Regions from separate parts of the Homo sapiens genome. Here all the other regions are linked to region 1. The links come from fine-mapping of genetic effects on gene expression. A gene starts in region 1. Each other region holds a variant in brackets. All regions are shown on one strand. Distances are from middle to middle.

The links.
Region 2: its variant is fine-mapped to the expression of INPP5E in blood mononuclear cells (TOPMed, PIP above 0.99). The same link has a PIP of 0.9 or more in T cells.
Region 3: its variant is fine-mapped to the expression of INPP5E in skeletal muscle (GTEx, PIP 0.96).

What each region holds. Positions count from the first base shown.
Region 1 is chr9:136,437,440-136,442,654 of GRCh38, forward strand. It overlaps INPP5E (inositol polyphosphate-5-phosphatase E), which reads right to left and starts at 2,406. Exons shown (of 10, transcript NM_019892.6): 1 at 1,169-2,406. The coding sequence starts at 1,980. It overlaps SEC16A (SEC16 homolog A, endoplasmic reticulum export factor), which reads right to left. Exons shown (of 32, transcript NM_014866.2): 32 at 2,666-4,384. The coding sequence ends at 4,316. RefSeq lists enhancers at 610-1,243, 1,185-1,294, 1,244-1,878, 1,879-2,512 and silencers at 1,585-2,074, 2,135-2,314, 2,365-2,564.
Region 2 is chr9:136,405,967-136,411,181 of GRCh38, forward strand. ENTR1 (endosome associated trafficking regulator 1) reads right to left here and starts at 4,648. Exons shown (of 10, transcript NM_001039707.2): 1 at 4,362-4,648; 2 at 4,124-4,273; 3 at 3,033-3,101; 4 at 1,860-1,972; 5 at 1,179-1,595; 6 at 1-12. The coding sequence starts at 4,431. It overlaps PMPCA (peptidase, mitochondrial processing subunit alpha), which reads left to right and starts at 4,692. Exons shown (of 13, transcript NM_015160.3): 1 at 4,692-4,773. The coding sequence starts at 4,703. RefSeq lists enhancers at 957-1,545, 3,751-3,910, 4,761-4,850, 4,881-4,930 and silencers at 4,271-4,320, 4,461-4,550. The variant C/A (reference allele first, on the strand shown) is at 2,631.
Region 3 is chr9:136,488,511-136,493,725 of GRCh38, forward strand. No RefSeq gene overlaps it. Among named protein-coding and RNA genes, the nearest start is that of C9orf163, 7.6 kb to the left of the region's middle. RefSeq lists a silencer at 351-400. The variant T/C (reference allele first, on the strand shown) is at 2,129.

The DNA of each region.
Region 1 (5,215 bases):
GGGAAGAGGCCACATAAAGACAGAGGCAGAGACTGGAGCATGCGGCCACAAGCCAAGGAACAAGTGGGGCCCCAGGAGCGGGAGGCAGCGGGAGGACCCTCCCCTGAGCCTCTGGAGAGAGGCTGCGTGGCCACACCTTGATTTTAGACTTCTGGCCTCTAGAACTGGGAGAGAGTCCAGCTCTGCTGTTGCAAGCCTCCCAGTCTGTGGTCATGAGTTACAACGGCCCCAGGACACCAACACAGAAACCACCTCACACCTCTCCCTTCTCACACCTGTCCTGCCTCCCGCCGCGGCTGACAGACAAGACTTGGGCACCATGGCAGTGGGGTGGGGGGAGGAAAAGAAGGGTGCAGGTGACTCTGCCAAGTCATAGTGGGAGCATCTCAGGACAGGCCCCCAGACTGAGACCCCAAGACAAGACCAGGCTTGGGAGAGGTCATGGGTTCAGCTGCAGTTCCTTCCAGCAACAGCTGGAGCCCACCAAAATGTTCCTCATGAGCAAGTGGCTAAACGAAAGTAGCCTCAACACATCTGGGGCCTCTTGCCGCAGAAAAAAACAAAGGGGGCAGGCCGGGCGCAGTGGCCCACGCCGGGAATCCCAGCACTTTGGGAGGCCGAGGCCAGGAGTTCGAGACCAGCCTCGCCAACACGGCGAAACCCCGCCCCTACTAAAAATACAAAATTTAGCTGGGTGTGGTGGCGGGCGCCTGTAATCCCAGATTCTCAGGAGGCTGCGGCAGGAGGATCCCTTGAACCCAGGAGGCAGAGGTTGCAGTGAGCCGGGATCGCGCCGCTGCACTCCAGCCTGGGCGACAGAGAGAGTAACAAACAAAAACAACCAAAGGGGCGGATCGTATACATTGACGACATTTCCCAAGACTAAACAAGAAAAAGCGCCAGATACGTAATTGTATGCAGGATGCCATCCTGTCTACCTTAACACAACGTCACGCCCACGAATGGTTCTGAAACGCACAGGAAAAGTTCTGGGAAGGGCGCTGCTGTGGGGTGGGGCTGGGAGATGGGGTGGCTGCGGGAGACCCGCTTCGTTCTTTCCGGTTAGGCATCTTAAACGCTGCTGATGGGAACGGTCTCACGAGGTTCCAGCAGCCTGAACACTACAACGAAGGCGGCGCGGGCGCTGCACCCGCCAGGCCCTCCCTACCTGCTGCGGACGTCCTTGCTGCGGATGGGCGCCAGGAGGCTGAAGGAGGATTTGGCCGAGCGAAGGGAACAGTCGTCGCAGGCCAGGGGGCTCCGCGGCCGGCCGGGGCCCAGGCTGCTGTGGGCCCGCACCAGGAGCGGCTGCGCGCGGAGCTTGTAGTCTGCAAGATCCGAGTCGACCTTGTTTGCTGTCCTCAGGGAGTCGGAGGCGATGTCCAGGCTCAGGGCAGGCGGTGGGCGCGGGGGCAGCAGGCTGGGCAGCCTGGGCGAGCTCCCCGCCACGGCGGCGTCTCTGTGCGGGAGGTTCGGGGAGCTGCTGGCCACCCCAGAGAGAGGGTTACCCCCCGAGGACGGGCTCCCTCTCTCACTGCTCAGGACCCCGCGGGACTTGGGGATTTCCTGCAAGGAGGTGCTCAGGCAGGGCGGGGAGCAGCTGTGGGCGGGGGCCCCGGGGCCCTCGCTCTGCACTGAGCCCCTGGAGGGACTGGTCCCATTCCGGGCTTCCAGGTCCTCCTGGCTGCCTCGAAAACGCCTCCTCCTCCAGCCCTTGTCGTCCAGGGACAGGGCTCGCTCCAGTCGAGGCCTGGCGGGGGGCCGCGGGGCGATGGGTGCTGCTCGGGCTGGCGGGTCCTCGCCGCTGGGCGTGGCCGGAGTGCTGCAGGCAAGCGCGGGGCTCTCGGAGCCCGGAGCATCGGGTGGGGACCCCGCGCGCTGGGCCGGCGGAGCGCCGGGAAGCTGTCCTTGGAGCGTCCTCCCTTCCGGCGGCTGCGGGGCCGGCTCGGAGGGCCGCAGATTCTCCGCCTTGGACGGCATGGACGGTCTCTCCCGGGGCAGGCCTCGGCGCGAGGCCGCAGGCAGCGCGAGGGGTCACGGGTGCCGGGTCCGGGGTCGCCGGCGCAGCGAGGAGCAGAAACGCCGCTGCGGCTCCCGCTTGGGCCGGGGATGGTCGCGGAGGGGCGGGGGCGGCTGCCGCATGGCCCGGGCCCCGAGTCCCGCCAGCCCCTCGGGGCTCCCAGACGCCGTTCCCAGGGCGGTCCGCAGGCAAGGCCTGGGGGAACAGGCGGCTGGGCGCCTGTCGCGGGGGAGGTTCGACCCCGACGGGGACGCCGCTCGGGGAGAGGGGTGGGAAGCGGGCACCCCTGGCTGGGCTCGCAGACTCCGAAGTCGACCCGGTACTCGCGGAGGCCCGGCCGCCCAGAAGCGGAGTCAGCCCGGCCGGGACCCAGCAACCGCCGCCGCGGGGCCGCGCCCGGTCCCCGCCCCGCGCCCCGGCCCCGCCCACAGCGGCCCCTGGCGGCCGGAGGACTGCGCCGCACCGGACCCGGACGGGTCTCCCACGCCCCTCCCAACCCGGCAGCCCCGCAGTCCGGCAGGTCCCAGCGAGGCAGGTGCAGGTCCCCGGAGAGGACCTGGGTGCGGTCCAGGACAGCGCCGAGGCCTGCGGACACCTGCACTCACTCGCTTCCAGCAAACCAAAGGGAACCACAGGTGAAGGTGCTTGAAGGAGCGCAAAATATTTTATTCAACAATTTGCAATGTAACAATTCTCATTTAGGAAAAATAGCCGCTCCCGCCTGGAGGAAGCTTCTTGAATCAAAAGTCGTGGCAGTCGACCCCAGAACAGCGGGCAGAGCCGACCGGAAGAGGTCCCAGGATTCACACGAGCTGACCGAGGGACAGAGAGGGCTGCCCCGTCACAGGGACTGGCCTTTCTCCAAGTGACAAGGACAAATGGATCCAGCGGGACACGCCTGTGGAACATTTTGGAAAACATCCTGGGTGGTCTGGGCTAAATGATCAAGTGAAACAGAAAGCCAGGAAGGATCTGTGCTAATTCCACATTCTACAATTTCTACACTTAAATTTAAAACACCAAACAGTTTGTATTCCTCCAGCAGAACCTACAGAAATTATCTACTGATTTTTATTAGTATTTAAATCTTTTCTTCAGTCTCTTTAGACTTGACAAGAATACGAAGAGTTTCAGAACAGTCAGAGAAGCCTTAAAGCTTTGCATCAGTGAGAGGAGGCCCGTCTCTGAGTTGAACAGGGTTGAGTCCACCAGGAGCTACTCAAAGTCTCAGTGTGGCAAAACTCGGGGCAGAAATACTAAGTTCCAGAGCTGCTGTCAAGAAACTGTGTTAAGATACTCTCCCCAAGTGCTACCAACCTCTGAACCAACGTCCCCCAGGGGAGAAAGTGGGTCATGTGGATTGTACCACGAAAAGTGCTCACGGAAAGTGCAGCCTTTTAGAGAAGTGCATCCAGCTTCCTTAACAGTGAGTCTAACCGTGCTCCTACACACGAAATGAAGCCCAAATCAAACATCACACGGTCAGTTTTCAACCTGGATGACCACCCTGAGCCATCATGTCAGACAGCCGGCTCTCTGGGGCTCCTTCCCAGTGACTGGGCCACACGGTGGGCAGTCCCCAGCGCTTTGGGTACACAAAATCACCCATGGTCCTCATCAGGCCACAGAAAGTAAAGTGAGGCTGGAAGCGTCTTTGCAACAGGAAAGAAATTCACTGCAGTAACTAAGGCCTCTCTCAAAAACCGTGAACTAATGCCGAAGGAACCCCACGGCTCCTCGGAGGCGCTGATTGAGAACACAGCGCCCTCCACTCATTCAGCCAGGTTCAAACACGGCGAGGGCCCAGATGGTGCAGAGCAGGGGTTGGGGTCTGCCTCAGTCACCCTCTCTTTGCTCCCAGCACCTTAAAGGAAGCGCGGGACTCACTGGGCAGTGACTCACAGCTGGGCTTGGAGAGGCCCTGGTTACTACCGACCATGTGGCTCTCCTGTGGCAGAGACAGCTCCGGCTTCAATGAATGAACATTCTTAAATGACCAGGAATACTATATCCTTAAATCATCCTAAATGACTAAGAAAGTCACATCATTCTTTTCGGCAAACAATTCTGAGTCAAAGATTCAGTCTTTCCATCCAGAATCTGAAAGGATGGTGGAATTAATTTTCAAAATAATTCATTACGATGGGCGGTGAGGAGGGAGGCACAGTGTGCGACCAGCTCTGAGTCACTGCTGTGTCTCCCTGGGGGCGGGACGGAGATCGCGGAGGTCGGTCGGGTTCTTCGGGGAGAACAGCAGCGTCAGGGCTCCAAGTGCAAGTTCACAGCAGGGCAAGCCTAGTTCAGCACCAGGTGCTTCCTCTGGCCAATCCTCCCTAGCCTTGAGCTCCCGGAGGTGGCGCAGGCCTGGAATGAAATCAACAGCATGACCTCTGCATGCCTGCCCCCAGGGTGAGCAGTGCTCGGCTGCAGCGTGGCAGGGGCTGGTCCACATAATGAACCACACGGGCCATTGGCGCTGACAAGCTGAAGGCTTCGTTTTTGTTTCCAAAAGCCTCTGGAAACCGACAAGTCAGTGCCAAGTCCTGGGCTCCCTTGAAAGCACTGTATCCTTAACCATCAATGTTTACTGTGAGGGTGGCCAGGAGGTGCCGTGGTTTCATCAGGGCCATGAGACCTGGAGCTGCTCTGCAGAGCCAGCCTGGCTGTCCAGAGTCCAGGGACAAGTGGTGGCCAGGCCTGGCCTACTGCATGGGACGCGGGGACCTCAGTTGCAGACAGCTGGCCAATGCAGGCATCCACTCTTGCTCCCTCGCAAAGCCTCATGGAGGGGAAAGCCAAGGAATTTTTGTAAAGGCACTAACCACATGGTAAAGGGAGCAGGACAATACCAAAATCGACTAGTCTGGATGCTGAAAAGCAGGTGACAGCCAGGGGCCAGCTTGGGGGCAGTGGTCCTGGGAGCCTCGGCCTCGTTTGTAGAGGACCAGGGCAGGAGTGCTGGGCCCCAGCCCAGGAAGCCTGCAGTCAAGAGTGTGTGAGGCTGTGAGGGCAGGCTGGGGTGACAATGGGGCTGAATCCCAAGAGGCCCCAGACCTTGGACCCCGCTCAGCTCCCCTACACTGGCAGCCAGTCTATACTCCACAGGCAAGGGAGAGGGGAGGAGAGACGAGGCTGAGGGAGGGAAACCACAGGAAACATTCTAGAACACTCCCCAGCTGAAGGGCATGCAGTCAG
Region 2 (5,215 bases), 31 kb before region 1:
TTCATCTTTCAGCTGTGGAGAGAGAACATCCTTATTAGAAAGTCAGCATGTCTGGCTCAAAAGGGCGTGTGCTTCTGCGGTGTGGCTCCAGAGCCTCCTGATAAGCAGAGATGCTGGGTCAGTGCAGCATCCACCTGCAGCCACTACAGAGGGAGACCACAGACGGAGGCAGGCACTTTTCAAAGACCTGTGGTCACAGATGCCAGTTAATTTTACTCAGAGGCCGGGGGCAGTGGCTCGCGCCTGTAATCCCAGCACTTTGGGAGGCCGAGGTGGGCGGATCACAAGGTCAGGAGTTTGAGACCAGCCTGGCCAACACGGTGAAACCCCCGTCTCTACTAAAAATACAAAAATTAGCCAGCAGTGGTGGCGGGCACCTGTAGTCCTAACTACTCGGGTGGCTGAAGCAGGAGAATCACTTGAACTCGGGAGGCGGAGGTTGCAGTGAGCCGAGATCGTGCCACTCCACTCCAGCATGAGCAACAGAGTGAGACACTGTCTCAGGAAGAAAATAATTTTTCTTTTTTTTGAAACAGAGTTTCGCCCGTCGCCTAGGCTGGAGTACAGTGGCGTGACCTCGGCTCACCGCAACCTCCGCCTCCCGGGTTCAAGCGATTCTCCTGCCTCAGCCTCCCAAGTAGCTGGGACTACAGGCGCCTGCCGCCACGCCCAGCTAATTTTTGTATTTTCAGTAGAGACAGGGTTTCACCATGTTGGCCAGGCTGGTCTCAAACTGCTGACCTCAGGTGATCCACCCACCTCGGCCTCCCAAAGTGCTGAGATTACAGGCGTGAGCCACGGCGCCCAGCTAAAAAATTTTTTTTTTTATTCAGAGCTTATAACCTTTTAGGTGATTATAATTTTTTAAAAATTTTCCTCCTCTTGGAATACTTAGCAAGCTGGCGACTGCAGCCTGCCTTTACTGAGGGTACAGCCCTGTAAGTGCCCAACTGCATCCAATTCACAGCTTCTAGCTCACCAGTCCTCTTTAGCCGGTTCTATTCCCACGTGTAACCAGAAGCAAAGTCAAAGGGAAAGTGGATAGCAGGCTGTCACGCAAATCGCCTTGTCCTGGAAATCAAACCAGGCCACCCAAGAGGTAGGATGGCTCCAGGTTCTCCCCGGGAGAAGCCGCTCGGACAGGCGCTGTGCCAGAGGGCGCCGTGAGGCTCACTTACTGCGTCGTAACTTATCTGCAGCGTCCGCAGGTGCCTGTCTCCCAGAGACTCTCCATGAACCGCAAAGTCTGCGCTAGGACTCCCTGCCGGAGAGGCCGGAGACACGCGAGAATCAGTGTCACTCAACGCCCACGAGGGCAGAGACTCAGGCCCTGCCAGCTCCGACGGGGTGGAGAAAAAGGAAAGGTATGTGCTGCAGGGCGACGTGCCGGCAGGGACCCTCTCGGGGTGAGTCTGCTCGATGGCGGACGGCAGGTAGGCCCCACTCCATCCGGTGTCCTCATCCTCCTCCTCATCCAGGAGGTCACCAGCCCCTGTCGGATCCTCGAAAAATGGCTGCTGATACTCCAGGCCATACCCGCCGGTTTGGGAGGGTGGGGAGTTGTGGTCAAGTCCCAGGGAATGCCTCGAGGCTTCCTAAAAAAAAAAAAAAAAAAAAAACAATGGAGGCCATGCTTCTGACTCGGAGCGCATCTTCCTTTCTGTGTTCTGCCTCGCAACAAGAAGAAAGGCCCAATCTCTCTACCGGAAGGAGCCCAGCAGCTTCTGAGCCCAGAGCTGCTCCCCAGCACTGACGCCTGCCTGCTCTGCCACACTCATGCACGATTCCTCCAAAGGAGGCTGCAGAGGCCGGAACAGAAACGTCCCACAGAGCCATCGCCCACAGTGCCGTGGATTTACCTTTGCATAAATTCTGCTGGCCGGATCCTCTTTCGAGAGGCCGAGGTTCTTGGTCTTCAGAAACTCTCTAAAAGAGAATGGATTTGCCTCTTCCAGATCTTCAAATCTGTCATCTGAAATAACAGACATCACAAATGCATAAAGTCTACTGAAGAGCGTTGAAAGGGAACCTTCCTGTTCACCTGTCTTTCCAGAGCATGGCCACATGTGAGATCGGGCAGCCACGCTTGTCATTCTACCATGACTCAGGCAGCACTAGGAAGTGTGAAGGTGGCTGAAGGTGGGCAGTGACACAGACGTGCGTCTGCATTTGCAATCTTCTCCTTCCACCCCTCGGCCCCTGCTCCCACACTGTGCTGCTCACTAAAGCTCCCCTGGGGAGCTTTAAAACGACCCAAGCCACTCCACTGCACACACCCAGCTCCCTGGTGTGAGGTCAACCTGTGCTAGGAGCTCTCAAAGCTCCTCAGGTGGCCAGGTGTGGTGGCTCACGCCTGTACCCCAGCACTGTGGGAGGTCAAGGCGGGCGGATCACGAGGTCAGGAGACTGAGACCATCCTGGCTAACACGGTGAAACCTCATCTCTACTAAAAATACAAAAAATTAGCCAGGCGTGGTGGTGAGCGCCTGTAGTCCCAGCTACTCGGGAGGCTGAGGCAGGAGAATGGCGTGAACCTGGGAGGTGGAGCTTGCAGTGAGCCGAGATCGTGCCACTGTACTCCAGCCTGGGCGACAGAGCGAGACTCTGTCTCAAAAAACAACAACAACAAC[C/A]AGCTCCTCAGGTGCTGCAACGCTGGGGACCCAGTGCCCCCTGACCCTCTTCCCGACTTTCCTACCTAGGTAGCCTAAATAACGCCCACTTTTCCCTTCTCCCTCTTGCCACCGCCTTCCCACCCTCCGGGGACTTAAGCAGCCACACTCGACCCTCCCAGCTGTGAGCCCCATGTAAAGCTGGCTCCTGTGGCCCCAGCCCCCCAGGTGGGGCTTCCCCGCTCCCTGATGTCACCTCGCTGCTACTCTAGGATCAAGACTGAACCCTTGAAATCCCACCCCCACCTGCTCTTTTGGGCTCCAGCTACACCACATAGCCAGTCACATTGACAGTCCCACCAGACACGTGCCTGGCACTGTGTTGGATGGAGACAAGAAGAAAAGGTTGCTGAACTACTCTACCTCCAAAATGTGTCCCGTGGGCTCCTGACGGGCTCTGCTTAGAACATTTCCCCTTTCCATAGCCAAAATCTGCAAAGAAACAATGTCACCCACCATGCTGGCAGGAAGTCTTTATGACCTCACATTTGGTTTTTTTCTTTTGCACATGGAGTCTCCACTGCAGTGGTTCTCACAGTCTAGAGAACTTTTTTTTTTTTTTTGAGACGGAGTCTTGCTCTGTCGCCCAAGCTGGAGTGCAGTGGTGCGATCTCGGCTCCCTGCAAGCTCCGCCTCCTGGGTTCACGCCATTCTCCTGCCTCATCCTCCCGAGTAGCTGGGACTACAGGCACCTGCCACCACGCCCGGCTAATTTTTTTGTATTTTTTGTAGAGACGGGTTTTCACCCTGTTAGCCAGGATGGTCTCAATCTCCTGACCTCATGATCCGCCTGCCTCGGCCTCCCAAAGTGCTGGGATTACAGGCGTAAGCCACTGCGCCCGGTCAGCCGAGAAAACTTTAAAAAAAACACAAGCTCCCAGACTTGTGACCCTGGAGATGGCCTGACTTGCAGACTGGCCCTGGTGTCCGTGGTCTGAAAGCGGCTCCTCAGCAGATTTTGAAGCCCAGCCGGGGCAAGCGCGTCCTCTTGTCTTGTGACAACCCCCGAATGTCCTCAGATCCTGGCATAACCACACAAACACTCCTGCACACCCCGGGCACCCAGCAGCACTTCTGCTTGGGTAGAACGAGGACGAACCAGATCTGGCCACTGCCCGGCTGTGGAGGCAGATGGAATGCTCCAGCTCGGTTTCCAATCACTGCCCACTAGGTGAAGGCACCCCGACTCCAGCCCCACGAGGAAAGCGGGCGGGCTCCTGTGCTCCCCGGGCACTAACCATCCTGTACTGGAACTGTCTGTCTTGGGGGAGGTCTCCCCGCAACCAGACTGTGAGCTCCTAGCAGGGGACTCCGCCTTTGAATTCCGAGTGCCTGGCACGCAGTGAGCGCTCTGCACATTGATGGGTCAATGGACGAGCTCGTGCTGCAGCGGAGGTGCCACACGTGGCGCGGGAACTGGAAGCGTCCCCGGGGCCGGCGCCCTCGTCTCTCACCTGTGTCTCCCACGGAAGCCAGCACCGGGCTGGGCACATAGCACATAAAGGCCGGCCGAATGCCGAAGAAGGGGGAGTCCAGGTCCCTGCCATGGGGGCGCTCACAATTTAGCTGGGGGAGACAAGACCGGCGCTCATAGAACGCTGGAGCTGGAAGCAACGACAACAGCGACTTTACTGCGTGCCGGGGCGGCCGCCGCCCACCTGGACCGCTGGACTCGGCCCCTGCCCCGCTCACCGTCGGGAATGGCGAGGCTCCGGGCTCGGGACAGCGGGGTGGCGCCCGGGCGGCGCTGGTAGCCCGACATCGCCGCCGGCCCGGCGGGGCACGACCTGCCTAGCCCGGCAGCGGCGGCTCCATGGCCCCGGCTCCGCCCGTGCCGCGGCCCGCGTCGCCCGCCCCCGTCGCCCGCCCCCGTCGCCCGCCGCTCGGCCGCCCCCGCGCCTCCGAGCCTCTCGCCGCTGCTTCCGCTCCGAGCACCGAAAGCGCGTGCCTGAACGCCTTGGGCCGTCGGCGAGGGGGAGGGGAAGCCGTGGGCGGAAGCGGAAGTGACGACTGAAGCGGGGCGGAGACGCAAGATGGCGGCTGTGGTGCTGGCGGCGACGCGGTTGCTGCGGGGCTCGGGTTCTTGGGGCTGTTCGCGGCTGAGGTGAGCCAAAGGCGAACCAGGCTTCGGCCTGGGGCGGGGGCGGCTCGAGTCTTTCTGGACGCTCCGTCTTCGGTTTCTACAGGTGACATGGCGCCCGTGGGACGGGCTCGCACTTCGGGACACTGGTGTCCCCGAGGCGACGGGGGCCCTGCCTTGCTTTGCGCCTCGAGCCCGGGGACGCAGTCCCATCTGTCTCTCCTCTCCCCGGCTGCTGGGTCCTCTCCCCCCCTCACTTCCCGGGTCGACGGGCCTTCTCCGAGGCCATGCCTCATATTTGCCCCCGCGCTTCACCTACCGCGTGCTCCTTCAGGAGGCTGAGCCGGTGGGGGCCCAGCTCTGTTAGACCCGCAGGGTTCTGACACCAGGGTCCAGGCTCTCGGTTGCTGCGGTCTGTCCGTTGATCTCTGACGTTTAAGAACCCTTTCCGTACCCACCGCTCCTC
Region 3 (5,215 bases), 51 kb after region 1:
CAGCCGTCTCCCTGTCTGAAAAGTCACCAGGCTGGATGGCATCAACTCTACAGGCCTTCCTGCTCCTCTGAGGGCAGGTGACTCCTCGTGGTTTGACACGGACCGGGAATCACATAGCCCTGGCTCAGTGAATGGGCGAACTTGGCTAAGTCGCCTAACCTCTTTGAGCCCCAGCTTCCTCATGTGTAAAACAGGATAATAGCAGTGTCGCGGGGGATGGCCCTGGGCGTGGGGTGAGGGCCATTTCTGCCCTGTGGTCACTCGGGAGGACCTGTGGGGCGCTGGCAGAGCAGTGCCACCAGGGGGAGGCAGAGAGCCGCCTCTGAGTCGGCCAAAGTAACAGGTGCACGCTTGCCAGGTGAGGTTGCTCCCATCTGTCGTCTCAGCATTTTGGGAGGCCAAAGTGGGAGGATCACTTGAACCTAGGGGTTTGAGACCAGCCTGGGCAACATAGCAAGATTCCATCTCCACAAAAAGAAAAAAAAGTAAAGTTATACACTTTTCTTTTTTTTTTTTGAGACCGAGTCTCACTGTATCCCCCAGGCTGGAGTGCAGTGGTGCAATCTCAGCTCACTGCAACCTCCTCCTTCCGAATTCAAGCAATTCTCCTGCCTCAGCCCCCCCAAGTAGCTGAGATTCTAGGTGCCCACCATGGTGCCCAGCTAATTTTTGTATTTTTAGTGGAGAGGGGGGTTTCACCAGTTGACCAGGCTGGTGTGGAACTCCTGACCACAGGTGATCCTCTCGCCTCGGCCTCCCGAAGTGCTGGGATGACAGGTGTGAGCCACCACGCCTGGCCGTAGTTATAACTTTTCTAAGGTTCATTTTATTAAATGGAAAAATGCCAAACAGAACGACAAAGGCTGTGGTAGAATGTGCACGTTTGTGTGGACCCAGGGCACATTTTCACCAGAAAATCCCGTGCGATAGAGTGGAAGATATACCAAAAGCCACAGCAAATATCACGCGTGACTCCGCAGAAAATTATAGATTCCTAACAAACACTGAGAGTGTGTCCTGTGCTGTAAGGTCCAGGGATGGGCCACAAGTTCAAGGTTGTGTGAAGAACAACGGAAACCCACCTCTGAGGCCCTGGGCACCTGGCACCTGTCGTGTTGGGCATGAATAAAGCTTCGCAGCTCAGTCCTGCAATCTCCATGAGCCTAGACTTGTCCATCTTAAAATGTAGACGGTTAGGACACCTGCTGAAGGGGCCGCCAGGCTTAACTGTGCCAACACGGCATGCAGGTGGAGAACAAAGAATGCGATTGAAAACCTCCTAACGATAACAAGAGCTGTTCCCTTTCTGAGCCCTCACCCCATGCCCAGCGTGCACCAGCAGCTCACCATCGCAGGCCCAGGGCCAGCACCCAGGTCCCCACTTGACCCACGAGGACACTGAGGTACAGCAACAGCCAGGACAGCAGCCGCCAGGTGGAAAGCAAAGACACAAAGCAGCCAGATCGGGAGTCACGTCGGGGCAGGCGACTGAGGCGCCACCCAGCCACCTTCAAGATGCAGATTGAAGAACAGCCTTTCCCAAAGCTCGCTCACTCACTGACCCTGCGTCTTCGTCTGCAAAGCCTGAGTAACGTGGGAGGCCCTGCAACGCCCCCTCTGAGAGACCTCCACTAACGCCAGCACTTTTTTTTTTTTTTTTTTTTTTTTTTTTTTTTTTTGTGAGAGTGTCTTGCTCTGTCGCCCAGGCTGGAGTGCAGAGGCATGATCTCTGCTCACTGCAAGCTCCGCCTCCCAGGTTCACGCCATTCTCCTGCCTCAGCCTCCCAAGTAGCTAGGACTACAGGCGCCTGCCACCACGCCCGGCTAATTTTTTGTATTTTTTAGTAGAGACGGGGTTTCACCGTGTTAGCCAGGATGGTCTCAATCTCCTGACCTTGTGATCCACCCGCCTCAGCCTCCCAAAGTGCTGGGATTACAGGCGTGAGCCACCACGCCTGGCCAACGCCAGCACTTTCAACGCACCGGGACCAAGCTGGACCCGGTTTTGTTTTGAAACACTTTTACTTTTGCAGACGAATACGTCGGTGTCCCACCAGGAACCGCTGCTGGTGGATGCTCACCACGGGAAACAGCCGCGTGACGCTCCCCCTTGTCTGCCTCTGCCCAG[T/C]GCTGCCCCCTCCAGCAGAGCTCCTCATGTGTGGTTCGTGGATTTGGGTCCACGATGAGATAAGGAGCCACACAGAACGAAATCAGTCCACCGCTGAGCACGCAGTTGAGCCCCACGGACACCCTTTGCAAGTGAGACTTTTGGGATGAAGGCAGCACAGGCCTGTCGATCCCTGGAGCAGCCCGGGGGCTACGGCACCGTGCTTCCCTCTTGGATGGAGGCAGCCCTGCCTGCCGGGGGCCTGATTTGTGGGCCCTGATGAGTTGGTGCCTCCGGGCTCTTGGGACCCTCCTTTGCTCTATCCAGAGGGACGCAGCGCCACACTCGGGGTTCACGCCGGCAGCGGCGTGGAGTGAGTCACCAGGCTGAAGATACACTTGGTGTTTTCCTGCGCTGGGTGGAACTGTCTGGAGCCCCCTTGGCATCCTGCTGAAGAGTCCGAATCTGGACGTGAGCCTCCTGGAGATACTGAACACCTTTTAAAGTGTGGCCAGGCCCAATCTAGGGTGCTGTGAGTGTACTGTACATCCTGGGTTTCAAAGACACAGTACCAAAAACAAACAAACAAAAAGAATATAAAACATCTCATTCACGGCCGGGCGTGGTGGCTTACGCCTATAATCCCAGCACTTTGGGAGGCCGAGGTGGGCCGATCACGAGGTCAAGAGATCAAGACCAGCCTGGCCAACATGGTGAAACCCCCTCTCTACTAAAAATACAAAAATTAGCTGGGCGTGGTGGCAGGTGCCTGTAATCCCAGCTACTCGGGAGGCTGAGGCAGGAGAATCGCTTGAACCCGGGAGGCGGAAGTTGCAGTGAGCTGAGATCGCACCACTGCACTCCAGCCTGGGTGACAGAGGGAGACTCTGTCTCAAAAAACAAAAAACAACAAAAAAAAACTCATTCACTTTTTATGTTGTGTTAAAATAATATTTTTGATATATTGGATTAACTAAGCTGTAGTATTAATATACACTTTGCCTGTTTCTTTTTACCTTTTTAATGTGGCTACTGAAATATTTAAAGTTGCATATGTGGCCAGGCGCAGTGGCCCACACCTGTAATCCCAGCACTCTGGGAGGCCAAGGTGAGGAGAGGACTGCATGAGCTCAGGAGTTCGAGACCAACCTGGGCAACAAAGTGAGACCCCATCTCTGCAAAAAATAACAAAAAAATTGGGTGGGTGAGGTGGTGTGCACCTGTAATCCCAGCTGCTAGAGAGACCAAGGTGGGAGGATCACCTGGGCCCAGGAGGTTGAGGCTGCAATAAGCTATCATGGCACCACTGCACTCCAGCCTGGGTGACAGAGCAAGACCCTGTCTCAAAAACTTTTTTTAATTAAAAAAAAAAAATAACATATTGAGGTGAGACTCACAGAACCTAAAATTAACCACTTTAAAGTGTACGAGTTAGGCCAGGTGCAGTGGCTCACGCCTGTAACCTCAGCACTTTAAGAGGCCGAGGCGGGTGGATCACTTGAGATCAGGAGTTTGAAACCAGCCTGGCCAACATGGTGAAACCCAATCTCTACTAAAAATACAAAAAAATTAGCCGGGTGTGGTGGTAGGGGCCTGTAATCCCAGTTACTTTGGAGGCTGAGGCAGGAGAATCACTTGAACACAGAGGCGGAGGTTGCAGTGAGCCAAGATCACGCCACCACATTCCAGCCTGGGTGACAGAGCGAGACTCCGTCTCAAAAAAAAAAAAAAAAAGTGTCCGCGTTATTGGCATTTAGTGCACTCGAAGGGCTGTGCACGCACCACCTCTCCCTGGGCCCAGAACATTTGCGTCACTCCAAAGTAAAACCCCGGGCCGTCTTCATCCACGTCCCTACAAAGGACATGAACTCATCATTTTTTATGGCTGCATAGTATTCCATGGTATATATGTGCCACATTTTCTTAATCTAGTCTATCATTGTTGGACATTTGGGTTGGTTCCAAGTCTTTGCTATTGTGAACAGTGCCACAATAAACTAAAACTTAAAGTATAAAAACAAAACAAAACAAAAAAAAACCCCGGGCCGTTTAGCAGCCACTCCCCTTTCCTCCTCCCCCCGGCTCTGGGAACCATCAATCTACTTTCTGTCTCCATGGGTTCGGTGACCACAGGCACCCCATAGAAATGGAGTCACTGCACCTGCGGCCCTTTGCGGCCGGCACCCTTCACTGAGCACCGTGCTTCCAAGGCTTGTCCGCATGGTGGGTGTCAGCGCCTCCTTTTCTACGGTGGAATCATATTCCCTCGTGCGCATTCGTCAGGGTTCTTCCGGCAAGCGGAGCCCATAAGACGTGCCACTGGAGAGGTTATTGCAGGGAATTGGCCACACGACCTCGAGGCCTGCAGTTCCCAGGGTCTGCAGTTGCAGGCAGGAGGCCTGATGGCGTTGCGAGTCCGAAGGCCGGTGGGCTCCAGGCCCAGGAAGAGCCCACGTTTTCAGTCCAAGTCTGAAGGCAGGAAAAGACCAATGTCCAGTGCAAGCGGTTGGGTGGGAGGACCCCTGGCACTCGGCCTATTGTTCTCCCCAGGCCTCAGCGGACCGCACGGGGCCCACCCACACTGGGGAGGGCGGACTGCCTTACCCGGGCTGTGGATGCAAATGCGAACCTCATCCAGAACACCTCAGAGACACACTCCGTTTGGCGAAATGGCCCGGCCAAGCTGACACTAAGGTTCACCGTCACAGCAGACGGTTTTGCTGACCCGTCGTTGGCAGTGGACGCTCAGGCTGTCTGTGGCTGTACTGAGTGATGCCGGGACAGCAAGTGGCCACGTGCGTTTGTTTGAGTCCCTGTTTTCACTTCTTTCGGACAGACCCCCAGGAGTGGAATTTCAGGGTGCTGGGAGTTTTATGGGCAGGACTCCGGCTGGGTCACCCCCTTTGAAGACAAGAGTCAGGCCACTCACTGCAGTTCCACGGTGGCCCCTCCTGGTCCTGGTGCCCAGCGCTGGCTGGCAGACGCAGCCCCCAGCCATAGTAGAGGCCTCGGGCTCACATCCCTCCTTGGAGAGACTGGGCCCAGGGCAGGCAGTGCTTTGCAATCCAAAGAGGGATCTCAGACTCCCCACCGCTCTGGTTTGAAGCC